Homo sapiens: one gene and its partners. The protein of the gene in region 3 purifies or fractionates together with the protein of the main gene of each other region. This does not show direct contact. Each region holds a gene or a part of one and is shown on either strand. Other genes may lie near its edges.

What was found. The genes of interacting proteins can lie anywhere in the genome.
Region 1: the proteins of RCC1L (region 3) and FASTKD2 purify together in Homo sapiens (affinity purification with mass spectrometry; one study listed by BioGRID). This does not show direct contact.
Region 2: the proteins of RCC1L (region 3) and GTPBP10 purify together in Homo sapiens (affinity purification with mass spectrometry, with the first as the bait; one study listed by BioGRID). This does not show direct contact.
Region 4: the proteins of RCC1L (region 3) and MRPL45 fractionate together in Homo sapiens (co-fractionation; one large-scale study listed by BioGRID). This does not show direct contact.

The regions. Positions count from the first base shown.
Region 1 is NC_000002.12:206,786,095-206,789,605, reverse strand, and holds part of FASTKD2 (FAST kinase domain-containing protein 2, mitochondrial), read right to left. Parts: intron 2,874-3,511; coding exon 2,707-2,873; intron 1,670-2,706; coding exon 1,451-1,669; intron 788-1,450; coding exon 703-787; intron 1-702. UniProt on the Homo sapiens protein: Plays an important role in assembly of the mitochondrial large ribosomal subunit.
Region 2 is NC_000007.14:90,370,705-90,374,215, reverse strand, and holds part of GTPBP10 (GTP-binding protein 10), read right to left. Parts: intron 2,062-3,511; coding exon 1,988-2,061; intron 1-1,987. UniProt on the Homo sapiens protein: May be involved in the ribosome maturation process. Complements an ObgE(CgtA) function in E.coli ribosome maturation. Plays a role of GTPase in vitro. When missing, disorganization of the nucleolar architecture is observed.
Region 3 is NC_000007.14:75,048,734-75,054,118, reverse strand, and holds part of RCC1L (RCC1-like G exchanging factor-like protein), read left to right. Parts: intron 1-1,322; coding exon 1,323-1,408; intron 1,409-5,385. UniProt on the Homo sapiens protein: Guanine nucleotide exchange factor (GEF) for mitochondrial dynamin-related GTPase OPA1. Activates OPA1, by exchanging bound GDP for free GTP, and drives OPA1 and MFN1-dependent mitochondrial fusion. Plays an essential role in mitochondrial ribosome biogenesis.
Region 4 is NC_000017.11:38,321,157-38,323,711, reverse strand, and holds the end of MRPL45 (large ribosomal subunit protein mL45), read right to left. Parts: intron 1,587-2,555; coding exon 1,413-1,586; intron 1,204-1,412; coding exon 1,117-1,203; 3' UTR 501-1,116; downstream 1-500.

The sequences.
Region 1 (3,511 bases), on a different chromosome or scaffold from region 3:
TGTGTGTGTGTGTGTCCAGTGGAGTTAACAGAAGATACAAGTTCCTTGGGGTCAGGATCCATGTAGCAGAGCTTTTACATAAAGGGTAACTGACCCACGGGTGTGTGCAATGATGGCATGATCTTATGCATCTACTGAAGAGGCAGGATGTTCTCTCATGGTATAGCATCATATTTCTCCCCAGAGACACTCTATTTGTAATGTGTGAGCCAAAGAAACAACTTAGGATTAGCTTCAATGTGCTCTAACCCATACAAATACAGTTTAATTAAAAAACTACGGTTTCTCTACCTCTGGAAAAGTCTTGGTGGTAGAGCAAAATATTTATTGGGTATTTGATTTTTGTAGAAGCCTCGAGTCTTTATTCTTTATGATCACTATTATATTATCTTGTCCAAAGTCTACACTGCATTGATAGTTTCAATTATATTAATATTGTTTTATTGAACTATAGCTTCAAAACCTAATTTTAAAAAAATGTCTGTCTCATTAAATGACCAATACTGTAGTCCATTGTATTCAACCATAACGTCCACATTTACACTTTCTAAGGAGTACATTGATGGATGACAAGTCTCTTGGTGTGCTGCAGGCTCCATACAAACATCAAGTCTTAGATTTACTACTGCTATTTAATATGAAGTCTTTTAGAATTAGGATTTTAATTCAGAAAGCCCAGCAAATGAAATATATGTAAGCAACCTTTGAATATCTGTAGCAGAAGTTGTATCCACATCAGAAAGTGGTAGCACTTGATTCCTGTTAGTGTCCATTCTGATTTCAAAATCTGAAAGGAAAGAATTGATATTAATTTTTCAAACATTCCTCCAAGTGACTTTCTTTTTCTTTTCTTTTCCTTTTTTTTTTTTTTTTTGAGATGTGGTCTCGCTCTGTCATCCAGGCTGGAGTGCAGTAGTGTGATCTCAGCTCACTGCAGCAACTTCCCAGGTTCAAGCAATCCTTTTACCCCACCCTGTTGAGTAGCTGGGACTACAGGGGCATGCCATCACGCCCATCTAAGTTTTGTATTTTTTTGGTAGAGACAGGATTTTACCATTTGGTCAGGCTGGTCTTGAACTCCTGAGCTCCAGTGATCCACCTGCCTCGGCCTCTCCACATGCTAGGATTACAGGCGTGTGCCACCGTGACCAGCCCCAAGTGATTTTCTGTTTCAAAATGTTTAATAGTACTACCAATAATGATAATAGCAGTAGCTAAAATATATTGAGAGCTAACCATGTGTCAGATACTAGTCTTGGGATTTTAGACACATAAAAATGTGTAGAATTTCATTTATTGGTCACAAGAATTTTATGAGGCAAGAATCAGGCCAGTTCCAGAGGCAATGCTGCACTACACTAAACTGCTGCCACAAATACCTATTTTTTTGGTCAGAAAAAAAGGAAAATAAATACAATAAAATGAAAGGAAATCATATAATGTCCCATACCAATATGATAATTGTGTGGCAAGTGCACATCCTTTGAGAAGTGTCCTTCACCTCCCAGAAGGCTGCTCAGCACCTCTGCCACCTTTGCATTTGTATGTGACGATGGCAGCTCCCGCGGCAGCTGTGGGAGTGACAAGGCTATGTCCCTCAGATAGACAGTATCATCAAGTTTTAGACAAGTATCCAAAGTATGCAGCTTGTAAGCATTCTTCATGTCATCTAAAAGATGAAAAAGAGAGTATATCATTAAGAAGAAATAAATGCAACATTAAAAAACTATATTAGTATATATTTAGTAATAGTTATAAAATAATAAATATATACATAAATGCACTTGTATTTCTAATTATCTCTTTCTTATCACAAGGACTCTCTCTTTGTCTCCCTGGTTTCCACAGGGTCTAAATCAAAGCCCTGCACTTGATAATGTTTTAAGGCTTCAAATATCTTTAGAGGTCATTTAGTCTAAACTCCTCAATTTATGGATAAGGAAATGCCCAGGAAAGTTAAAAAGCCTCGTAATTAAGGCAAAGTTGGAACTAGAATCCAGGTTTCCAAGGTTCAAGGCTGTTTCTCCATTATTACACTGCCTGAAAAACCAGCACGTGGTATTATTGACTGACTCTCTACAACTCAACTTTGGGATTTTATAACATTTATTTATTTATGTTTTAATTCTGAACTACTCTATTCTCAGACACATCGTCAAATTTTGTACATCTACCTGAATATTGCTTTGCCTTATTTAATACTAAAGACTAAAAGTCAACAGTTAATTTGGTTCCAAGAGTAAATGAACTAATTAATTTGGTGGCTATTTGGTTTCTTGATCTAACAGGTGTTCCCTCATCACAGGCCAGGAGTGACCAAGTGTTTACAGCTGCAAAAATTGACTTAGGTTGGCTTCAAATGTGATAAGTAAGGATTAGGAATTAAAACAGCTCTGATCAAAGCATAAAGAACAGCCTGAACAGTTAGCCTTTGTATAGAAGGATAGAGTATAAATAAAAGGAATAATGATGCATTCCTTATTTTTTTCTACATGTAGGACTTGTCATTAAAGAAGGGTCTGTAGGTTTGCTGCTTTGAAGCACTATCCTTTGACTTCACCATTATCAGCCCTTTCCACAGCAACACCTGCTCTGCAAATTTCAACTAACACTGCTCCAACTAAGACCCCATTCAGAGTCATATGGTAGCTAGTGGTAGTGCAGAATTGGTCACAATTGGTGACCAATTCTGCACTAACATCCTACCTGATGTCAGCAGCTCACTGATGATGTCTTTTTGCAGAAGCTGATTAAAAGGAGCCAGGGGAAAGTAATTCATCAAGCAAAATGAATATACTGCATCCAATAAGTTTTCAGAAGAAATAGTGTGAAGATAACCAGTCAGAGCACTAGCCATAACTTCCACGAACTGTCTGGGGAACAAAGAAAAGTCAGTTTCCCAACATATACAGAAGGCCAATATCTGTAACGATTCCAAAGAAAAGAGATAAGAAAATCAGCCTTGCAAGTAAGTATCCACACATCATTCTGGACAGTTGGTTATCTCATAATAAGTGTATACATTCAATAAATGTTGGCTATTGCTGTATGTCTTGCACGAGACAAACATTTTATAGACTTTAACTCATTTAACTCACACTAAAAAACTCCATGGGTATTACTATTATTCTCCTCATTTAAAAAAATGGGTAAACAGGCTTAGAGATTGAGTAACTTGTCTAAGAACACACAGACAAGGAAGTAGCAAAGGCAGTATTAGAACATAAGGTGTCAGGCTCCAGAACCTTTTCATAATTATGCTAGATTTTCTATAACGCCTGGACCACCACTACAGTTTTATAACCAACTAAAATTATCTAGTTATCAATACTATGGGTTAAAAGAACTGCAAGCCTAATCCTACCACCCACAGCTAATGGTACACAGTATAACGTGGTTAAGCACAAATGAAGACAGAAAAGATCAAAATCAGGGGCAGTCGCTTGCCCAGAGTGACACCACTAATAAATGGTAGATACCCTTTGAACACACGTCAATCTGATTCTCAGGG
Region 2 (3,511 bases), about 15 Mb from region 3:
ATATTTCAATTCAGATTTTGTTCTAATTTGCTAAAATGGAAACTATTATTATCTTTGCTATTTAATATGTACTTGGAGGGCCAAATGTTGTGGCTCATGTCTGTAATCCCAATGCTTTGGGAAGCCAAGGCAGGAGGATCATTTGAAGCTAGGAGTTCAAGATGAGCCTGGGCAGCATAGTGAGACCCTGTTTCTACAAAAAATGTAAAACTAGGCAGACATGGCAGTGCACCTGTAGTCCTAGCTACTCCAGAGGCTGAGGTGGGAGGATTGCTTGAGCCCAGGAGTTCAAAGTTACAGTGAGGTATGATCATGCCACTGTACTCCTGCCTGGGTGACATAGCTAGACCCTGTCTCTAAAATAAATGAATAAATAGTATTTGGAAAAAGACAAACACAGATTTTTATAATCTGTATAGGCCTAATGTAATTACTGAACCTCAACGTTCTTCTATTGCACTTTAAGGTGAGTGATAGATGTTCAGGAGGGTCAGATATTAAGTTTCTATCACTGGATCTGTGGCTGAAATTTTTCTAGTTCCTTCTCATTCAGTTATCCTCTAGTTCCTTCTCATTGTTATCCTTAAGCCTCATCAATCCTACGCTAGCCTCTTTCCTATGACTTTTTGCTCTTCCTTCTCAAGTCCTACATATATTATAACAAATATTGGCCTTGTGATTTATAGCACTTAGTCCAAACTTCACTCTACTTCGTCACAGTCTAATTTTAGAATGGCTTGATTTTATTTTCCAAGTTAATGGCATTCTGTGTCCTTTTAATGATGGCAGAGATCTTATCATACTCACTACTTTTAACCAAAGCTTCTTTTATATCTCATCTAGCTACCACAAGAGCCTACTAACTGGTTGTCTCAGACCCTTCATGTCCCACACCAATCCATTTTCTACATTACAGGCCGAGATCTCTGTGAGGAGCAAACCTAAGCATTTTATCCCTTGCTTAAATGCTTCCAATTGCTCTTAAGATATAAAAATCAAATACAGCCTAAATGGTCTATGTGACATGCTCTCTTACATCTCCAGGCTCATCTCGATTCTTTCCCTTATTTCATGTTCTCTAGACACACAAATCTACTCCCTGCCACCACTAAGGCTTTGTGTACATACTATTTCCTCTGATTAAAGACCCTTCACCCTCCACTCTATTTTACTAATTACCTCATAATTATTCCTCATATCCCAGTCCAAAAATCACACATCCTTAAGGAAGCCTAGAGCAGTCATCTATACTCTTTCATAGTACCCTTTCATATTCCCTTATATTTATTAGTGATATGTACGCCTTACTCCACTAGTCTACAAACTCAATACAAGTCAAAACAGGAGCTGTTTCTGTTTATCAGTCTTTGTAATCCCAGAACCTAATGTGGCTCCAAAAATAAGTATCTGCTAAATGAATGATAAGTACCTTCCTGGTACTTATCACAGTGCCTGATAAAAGGTAAGTGGTTCATAAAATCCTAACTAAACCAAATAAACGATTCTGTGACAGAAAAATAAATGCAATAAAGTAAGTGTCTAACCTGTTTAAGCAACTTTGCTGAGGGGTATAGAGGTTTCAAAGATTAATGGAAAATATGGCTGGGGAGGGTGGCTCACACCTATAACCCAGCAATTTAGAAGGCCAAGGTGGGAGATCACTTGAGCCTAGGAGTTCAAGACCAGCCTGGGCAACATGGCGAAACCCCTGTCCCCACAAAAAAAAAAAAAAAGTTAGCCAAGCATGGTGGCACATACCTGTAGTCCCATCTACATGGGAGGCTGATGCAGGGGGATGGCTTGAGCCTGGGCTGCAGTGAGCCATGATCATGCAACTGCACTTTGGCCTGTGCAACAGTAGTCTATCTGCCAAAAATTTTTCAGTTAAGGATACCCTCCGAGTTATCATTTTATTCATTCTCAGAGAAATATTAGTCTTTAAAAGTTTACCTCCACTCATTAAAATGTACAATCAAATTACACTTACATGCGTAATCTGCAATTGCAGGTTTTGCATGAGAAACACAACTTAGCAAAGAGGATTTTCCAGCATTTGGGAATCTGAAACAAGAATATAAAATTATACACAAATGTCAATATTATTATCTCTGAATTCCTAACAATTCAAGTAGACTTCATGAATATATTTGGGATTAAAAGTAGAATATAAATGTATTATAAATAATCTTGAAAAACTTGAGAACATACACTTACATAAAAGGTAAAGATAAATTCATGCTGGACACTGAAGATGTTTCAATATTTAAAGTGTATAATAATTATTCCAATTATGATTTAAAAATAAAAACCCATTGGAAGTCATAGAAAAAACAGAAATTAAAGAAAAAAAAGAAAAACACCTGTAACTTTCTAACTCCAGCTATACACTGACAAAACATTACCTTGTTTTGTAAACTGCTTTAAAAAAAAATTTTATAGACAGTTTCAAACATATACAAAAGTAGAGAGGTGTAATGAATTCCATTTAGCTATCACCTAGCTTCAACAAATATTAATACATTGGCAATATACTTCTTAAAATTTGGTTTGAATAGAAATCCAAGTAAGGTCTGTACGTTACAAATACCCGGTGTGTCTCAAATCTATTTTCAAGCTCCCCCTACCATCTTGTTTCCTATCTGCAATTTTATTTTTAAAGAAACTGGGTCAGTTGTCCTACAGAGTTTCTTTTCCAAAGTCTTCATTTTTCTACTAGCACCTACATGGACACTTAACATGCTCTTTTTCCCTCTATTGTCTGCAAAAAATTGGCAGTTTTTATAGAGTCTTAATGTTCAAGTTTTCATATTTTTTTGAAGGAAGTAGGGGAAAACTACTTTATAGTTGCTTGGCCTACTCTTTAAACTGAATCATATAAGGTGAACACTTTTCAATGGTGAAGTGTAATTTACTTAACTAATTTCCTATTGACAGACTTTCAGGTTGTCTACAATTTTTCACTCTAAACAACATTGTAAAAAATGTGTATACAGGTAGACAGACACTGTTAATAGTCATCTCTGGGTGGTGGAATTCATAGACAACTTTTTCTTTATGCAAACAAGTGTGTATTATTTGTTTTTTTAAAATAACTTTAAACAATGCAATGACTATCTTTAAACTTTTGCAACTTTTTTCATCTTTTCATAGCTTAATAGCTCATATCTATTTATTTATTTATTTATTTATTTATTTATTTATTTATCTATTGAGATGGAGTCTCGCTCTGTTGCCCAGGCTGGAGTGCAGTGGCGTGATCTTGGCTCACTGCAAGCTCCACCTCCCGGTTCACGCCATTCTCCTGCCTCAGCCTCCCAAGTAGATGGGACTACAGGCGCCCGCCACAATGCCTGGCTAATTTTTTTTGTATTTTCAGTAGAGATGGGGTTTCACCATATTAGCCAGGATGGTCTCAATCTCCTGACCTCGTGATCTGCCCACCTTGGCCTCCCAGAGTGCTGGGATTACAGGTGTGAGCCACCATGTCCGACCTATTTCTTTTAATGTTTTT
Region 3 (5,385 bases):
CTAGCCTAGGCAACATAGTGAGATCCCTTTTCTACAAAAAATACAGAAATTAGCTGGGTGTGGTGGTGTGCGCCTGTAGTCCCAGCTACTCTGGAGGCTGAGGTGGAAGGACTGCTTGAGTTTGAGAGTTCAAGGCTGCAGTGAGCTATGTTTGTGCCACTGCGTCGCAGCCTGGGCAGCAGAGTGAGACCCTGTCTCAAAAGCAAACAAACACACACACACAAAAACTATCTAAGGTCTGAGTGTGGAGAACAAGGGGCATGCTTAGATCAGGGGCCTAAGACAGCTTGTAATTATTCCGTACTTCATCAGCCCCAGGTCTTGTAGTCCTGGCTTTTCCATGTCACTTCCTCTGCCTCCCATGACCCAAGCCTTTTGCCCAACAGCTGATGGTGACATGGGCCCAGGAGTGCCCCAGCTGGTGCAGACAGAGTCCCACCTGAAGGCCGGGCTAGGAGAGGCCATCTCCTGGGTTGACCTCTTAAACAGCATCTTGTACTTTTTCTTCATGACAGTTTTTACAGTTTGTAAACATATATTAAAATCATCTGTCTGTTCCGTCTCTGGCCAGTCCCCAGCTCCTGGAACACAGACCTAGACCCAGCACAAGCAGGCACTTGGTCATTAGATGCCCTGTGGCTGAATGCTCCCAAGATATGGACAATCAATCCAGGAATGACAAATTGTCTTACTTTTCACTGTCAAATCAGGAAGCCCAGGGTGTCGCCAGGATTTGTGGAAGGCAGAGTTTGGTGGCACACGATTGTGGGCGGGGCACAAGGGGTGAGCAGAGTGGGCCGTGTGCATCAGTGACCTCCAGCCCCGTGCACCACCCCCAGACCCCAGCTCCATGCACCACCCCCAGACCTGTCCACCACCCCCAGACCCCAACTCCATGCACTACCCCCAGCCCTGTCCACCACCCCCAGACCCCAGCTCCATGCACCACCCCCAGCCCTGTCCACCACCCCCAGACCCCAGCTCCATGCACCACCCCCAGCCCCGTGCACCACCCCCAGACCCCAGCTCCATGCATCACCCCCAGCCCCGTGCACTGCCCCCTGCCCCATCTTCATTTGAGTGCTCATCTCCCACGTGGGTGGATGCAGCAGAAGTCCTGGCCGTGGATGTGTTTTCGATATGGGGACAGCATCTCAGACCCTTACTTTTGCCTTCAAAGAAAGCATGAACGCCTGGTAAAAGCTGAACAGTGGGCTCTGTAGGTATCTGGTTCTAGAAAGCCTGTTCTCATGACCCATCCTCTCCTTGGAGACTTGTTCTTCACACAGTCCCAACCAACCCCTGTTTTCCTCCCTTTGCAGACAAAGGAGAGCTGTTTGTATGGGGCAAGAACATCCGAGGGTGCCTGGGAATCGGTCGCCTGGAGGACCAGTATTTCCCATGGAGGGTAAGGCTGGCCGGGGAGGTCTTGAGAATGGATGCTAAGAGTAGAGTCACCTGACGTCACTGCAGACACCTCGCGTGCAGATGGGCCAGGACGAGGGCCATGGGACCTGCTCCCCCTTCCGGGTCCTGGCTGCACTCCTGCAGCGCGGCATGCTATGTCATTGCACACTCTGTGGTGACACCCATGAGATACCCGTGGTGCATCTGCATGGTGTGATGCGTGGGGGAGTGACACCAGGCTTCTTGGGGTGCAGGAGCTGGGTCAACCCATCCCGGCCCACTGACTGGGAGGTTGGAGGGAGTAGCCCACTCAAGCATCCAGTCCTATAAGAAGCCCTGTCGGAGGCCATCCTTGGGGTGGATCGGGGAAACAGAGGCACGATGGTGCAAAGGCTCTGGTAGGGTGCCATGAGGCTCCGGAGAGGGGGAGATATTGGATGAAGTTGGCACGCTAGAAGCTGTTTACAGAAGCCCATGTGGGGGAATGCTTCACAATGAATTTAAAAGAAAGCAGGATGTTTAATATTTAGATGGCCCAACCGCAGCTATGAAGTGAAAAAATAAAGTCGCTTCCTTAGGGGCGGTAGTATGCAATTAGACAAAAAGGCTCCTTCCAGAATTACAGGGGAAGAGACGCTCATTCTAAAATTGTAGTTTACCTTAGTGTTGTTTACTAAGTCAGTTCTTTAAGGCATTCTAAAAAAGGAGGTTTTTGGGGTTTTTTGAACATGAAACATATGTTCATGGTACAAAAAAATGCACTATGGAAAATGAGTCTCCCACCACCCAGTTTTTGTTCCAGAGGCAGCCACTGGTCCTGATTTCTTTATGTTCCTTTCCAGAGATAGTCTCTGCATAGAGACTGGTGTGCATGCGTGCTTTGTGTGTGTGTGCCTGTGAGTACATACATGTGTGTGCAGTGTGCATATGGGTGTATTTTATCAGAAGGTTGGATTTTAATTTGTTTTGAAATTGTGAAAAGCGTTTTTAAAAAGGACTTGCACCAGGTGTGGTGTCTCACACCTGTAATCCCAGCGCTTGGGGAGGCCCAGGTGGGTGGATCACAAGGTCAGGAGTTCGAGACCAGTCTGACCAACATGATGAAACCCCATGTCTATTAAAAATACAAAAATTAGCCAGGCATGGTGGCACACGCCTGTAATCCCAGCTACTTGGGAGGCTGAGGCAGGAAATCACTTGAACCCGGGAGGCAGAGGTTGCAGTGAGCCAAGATCAGACGCTGCTGCACTCCAGCCTGGGCAACAGAGGGAGACTGTGTCTCAAAAAAAAACAAAGGACTTGCAAAAGAAATGTGTATATATATATGTGTGTATATATATATGTGTGTATATATATGTGTGTGTGTATATATATGTGTGTGTGTGTGTATATATGTGTGTATATATATATGTATGTATTTATATGTGTGTGTATATATGTGTGTATATATACACACACACATATAAATATATATACATATATAATACATTTATATTATACGTTTATATATATTAAATATATATATATATATATTTTTTCCAAGACTATCGGTGGAGGCTCTGAGAAAGCAAGTTGAAATGGAGACTTTAACTTTGTTTTTTTGTTTTTGCTTATTATGAGACAGGGTCTCACTTTTATCACTCAGGCTGGATTGCAGTGATGTGATCACAGCTCACTGCAGCCTTGACCTTCCTGGGCTCAGGTGATCCTCCCACCTCAGCCTCCTGAATAGCTGGGACCACAGGCGTACACCACCACACCTGACAAATTTTTTTATTTTTAGTAGAGATGGGAGTCTCACTATGTTGCCCAGGCTGGTCTCAAACTTCCGGCTTCAAGCAATCTGCCTCCCTCAGCTTCCCAAAGTGCTGGGATTACAGGCATGACCCATCACGCCCGGGCGACTTTAGCCTTGTTGGAAAGCTGTTTGTATAATAGAGTTGTTCCCAAGGTGGTGGGGCTTGCCGGCTTTCTCCTGAGCCTGGAAACTGCCGGTGTGAGGAACAGAGAGTCGGGCAGTGGGTGTGGCTCAGATAATGTGAGCATCAGTCATCTACATGCCCACTTGCTTTCTCACTGACTCCTCTCTTCTCTCACTTTGCCCTTTCTTTCGAAAAGGACTTCCTTCTGAGGGGGGAACTTGGGAAACAGTTAAAGCAGCCGGGTTTTGGGTGAAAGAACGCTGACGAGGGTCTGCCCCCCGCCCTCATTTCCTTCAAATCAGAGTGATCAGCCTGAGATTTGACTCAGGTCACGTTGCCCCTGCCATAAGGGCATGTGCAAAGCGCTGGTCCCTGTGCGGGCAGGGAGTGGCCGGAGCCCGATCCCGTTGACATTCCATCTGGGTCACTTGCCCTGGCTCGCCACACACCAAGTGTCCTTCTGGTCATTTGCTTTTTATTTTTATTTTTATTTTATTATTATTGTTTTGAGATGGAGTCTTGCTCTGTTGCCCAGGCTTGAGTGCAGTGGCATGATCTCAGCTCACTGAAACCTCCACCTTCCGGGTTCAAGTGATTCTCCTTCCTCAGCCTCCCTGGTAGCTGGGATTACAGGTGCATGCCACGACGCCTGGCTATCATTTGCTTTTTAAACACATTTGTGCCTTTGGGAAAAGAGCACCCCAGCCTGTCCCCGTGACGGCGGCATTTGGCGCCAAACCATTGTCCTTCCTCTTGCACATTCAGGGAGCCCCTAAGGGTTTGTGCACGGAGTGGCCTCGACCCCTGTCCTCTTTGGATTGGGGTGGGAGAGTCCAGTCCCTTCTGATGACTCACTTAAAAAAAAAATTACAAGTGATTTTTCTTTTCTTTGTTTTGTTTGTTTGTTCTTTTAGACAGGGTCTTGCTCTGTCACCCAAGCTGGAGTGTGGTGACAGGATCTCGGCTCACTGCAGCCTCTGTCTCCCAGGTTCAAGTGATCCTCCTATCTCAGCCTCCCGAGTAGCTGGGATTACAGGCTTGCACAACCACACCTTGCTAATTTTTGTATTTTTTGTAGAGATGGGGTCTTGCCGTGTTGCCCAGGATTTTTTTTTTTTTTTGAAAACAGGGTCTTGCTTTGTCGCCCAGGCTGGAGTATGGTGTGATCACACTCACTGCAGCCTCAAACTCCCAGGCTCAAGCTATCCTCCTGCCTCAGCCCCACAAGTAACTGAGATGTGGGATGGGATGACAGGCATGTGCCAGCACCACACCCAAATAATTTTTTTTTCGTTTTTTTTTTAAGAGACGGGGTCTTATGTGTTGATCTCAACCTCCTGGTCTCAAGTGATCCTCTTGCTTCAGCCTCTGGAATAGCTGAGATTACAGGCATGTGCCACCACACACGGCTTATTTTATTATTTATATTTATTTGTTTTATTTTATTTATTTGAGAGATGAGGTCTTCCTATGTTGCCCAGGCTGGTCTCAAACTTCTGCCTCAAGTGGTCTTCCCACCTTGGCCTCACAAAATGTTGGAACTACAGGGGTGAGTCACTGGCTTGGGTGATCTTTATTCTTTAAAACAACTATGTTCAAATTAATCTTCCGTAGGGGATATATTACATCATTTAAAAAGTATTCCAGAAAAGAAGAGAAAAAAAGAGTAAAACTTTACTTGTAGCTCATACACTGGTACCAACTAGTTATTCTTAGACTTGCAGAATTTGGCCTTTTCTGAGTATGTGGGCCCGGGAGGTGACATCTGAGCCACCTGATTCAAACCTCTGCTTCCAGAAACTTTCCAGGACATGTTTTTTTGCTACACGTTGAGACTCATCCCTCAGAGAGGTTCAGTGGTTTCCCAGGGTCACATATCTAAGTTGGAGTCAGAGCCAGGATTTGGACTCAGTTACATCTGACTTTTAAGACAATGGTCTTTCCACGGCCACCCACCTCCCTGGGCGAGCCTGAAGCTGGTGTGGAGAGAAGGCAGCACGCAGTGGCACGGAACATTTGACCAGGCGTTGTCTGGCCTTCCAAGACCCTCTGACCT
Region 4 (2,555 bases), on a different chromosome or scaffold from region 3:
TCAAAAATCAGCCAGGCATGGTGGCACATGCCTGTAGTCCCAGCTACATGGGAAGCTGAGGCAGGAGAATAGCTTGAATCCAGGAGGTGGAGCTTGCAGTGAGCCGAGATCGTGCCACTGCACTCCAGCCTGGGCCTGACAGAGCAAGACTCCATCTCTAAAAAACAAAATAAAACAAAAACAAAGTGATTTCTCTTGTCACACTCAGATGGCCTAGGACACATGGGCATGTGAGGTCCCACACCCTTTTAACAGCCCATCTGGAGCTAAGGAACAAGGAGGGGCTGGCCTATTTTCCTCTGCACAGGTTCATACTTTTGTACACTCACCTTCAATACTGGGCTGGAAAGAACAGTCCCCATCTCCAAATGGTGCTAGAAATCAGGGAACCAAGTACTGCAGATAAATTTTCCAAATGTAACAACCTCTCCATGGCCCCTGCCTCCCCCAACACTTCCTGATACAGCTAATAATTAAGAACACAATCAAAGGCTAAGGGATAAATTATTTCTTTGGATTTATATTTTTCCATAAAATGCAAATGCTGATTCATCAGTGAGTCAGTATATGAAAAAGGGCCTCTTAAATGTCTTATAAACACTAATTATTCTTCCCCAGTCTTCATTTCCTTAAAGTCACATCGCTCACAAGTAGGCTCATCTTCCACTTCTGCCATCTGAAGGCTGGTCCATGCCCAGCCTGAACCAGGGGAAATGTGCAGAACTCACCAAAATTTTTCCAACACCCTGACAACATTTCATTTCAAACTCTGATCCCTGCCCTGTGATTACAAAGAGGATGCTGCTGGTTGTCTCTCACAGTCCCTGCTGTGGGAAAAACTGATATCCAATGTTCTCTGAAACATACTGTCTTTCATCTAGACTCAGAAGCTAGACATAAAATTTAAAAAAGAAGAGTGTCCATGGCCATGTTATACCTGCCACCTGCTAGGGCCCAGTCATCAGTCATGGTTGCTGATGATGAGACTGCTGAAAAGACCTGAGCAGGATGGGAGAGAACAAAGGTAGTTCTTTTTATAGCATGAGGGGAATGGGAGACTTCAAAGCTTCCAGCAGCCTCATCACCCAGGCTTCACCCTAGAAGTCATTTTTGTCATCAGGCTAGCTGAGGCTTCTGGGCCTCTCCTTGTGCCTCTTCATATTCTTCTTCTGGTTTCAGCTGAGGGCCAGGGATCATCACCGTCTGAAAGAGTAGGACGCCAGGTTACCCACCAACCAAGCCCATGGCTGACCCAGAAGAGCTTCATCCCTTGCTCCCACCCACCCACCCACCCGGCCTTCCCTTCCTGGGTGGTGCATCACCCCCTCTCGCCACTAGGTGGAGCCCGACAGAGTGGCTTAGGAGACCACGAGTAGTGCCTCAGCTCTCTTAAACCATGCAAGCCACCTTACCTTAAGGATGGGCTGCTTAGGGGGTGCCCATGGGGGAACGATCTTGGTATGCATTCTCCAGCTTCCATAGGGGTTTGTCAACTGCTTTTCGAATACAACATACTCCAGGACATCCTTGGGTACATCTTCCTGTCCATACATCAACCGGCCAAACCGGTCATAGATGGCCAGAGTCTGCAAGGATAAAAGCAAATCTGGCCTCTTAGTTTTTTTGGTGTGTGAGTGTGAGTTGTTTGTTTTATTGCCATACAACCTTTTTTTTTTTTTTGAGACAGAGTCTCACTCTGTTGCCCTGGCTGGAGTGCAGTGGCATGATCTCAGCTCACTGCAACCTCTACCTCCTGGGTTCAAGCAATTCTCCTGCCTCAGCCTCCCAAGTAGCTGGGATTACAGGCACGTGCCACCACTCCTGGATGATTTTTTTTGTCTTTTTTAGTAGAGATGGGGTGTCACCATGTTGACCCAGCTGTCCAACTCCTGACCTCAGGTGATCCACCCGCTTCGGCCTCTCAAAGTGCTGGGATTACAGGCGTGAGCCACTGCACCCAGCCTGCCACACAACCATTTTTGAAACCACCATAAGAAAAATCTTTTTAAATTTTTTTTTTTTGGAGACGGAGTCTTGCTGTTGCCCAGGCTGGAGTGCAGTGGTACGGTATCGTCTCACTGCAACCTCCGCCTTCCAGGTTCAAGCGATTCTCCTGCCTCAGCCTCCTGAGTAGGTGGGACTACGGGCACACACCATGATGCCCGGCCAATTTTTCTATTTGTAGTGTACACAGTGTTTTGCCATGTTGGCCAGGCTGGTCTTGAACTCCTGACCTTGTGATCTGCCTGCCGTGGCCTCCCAAAGTGCTGGGATTACAGGCATGAGTTACTGTGCCCAGCCAGAAAAAATCTTAATGGGTAGAAAAAAAGTTATCTCGGAATTCTGAATCTAGGACTATCTGATCAACTACTGACACTTTATTCTTACAAGTTCTTTGACAGGGGGCAGAGAGACGGGGAAGTCAAGACCAAGAAGGAGTGGGGCACAATGGCTCATGCCTATAGTCCCAGCACTTTGGGAGGCTGAGGTGGGTGGATCACTTGAGCTCAGGAGTCTGAGACCAGCTTGGGCAAAATGACAAGACTGGTCTCTAC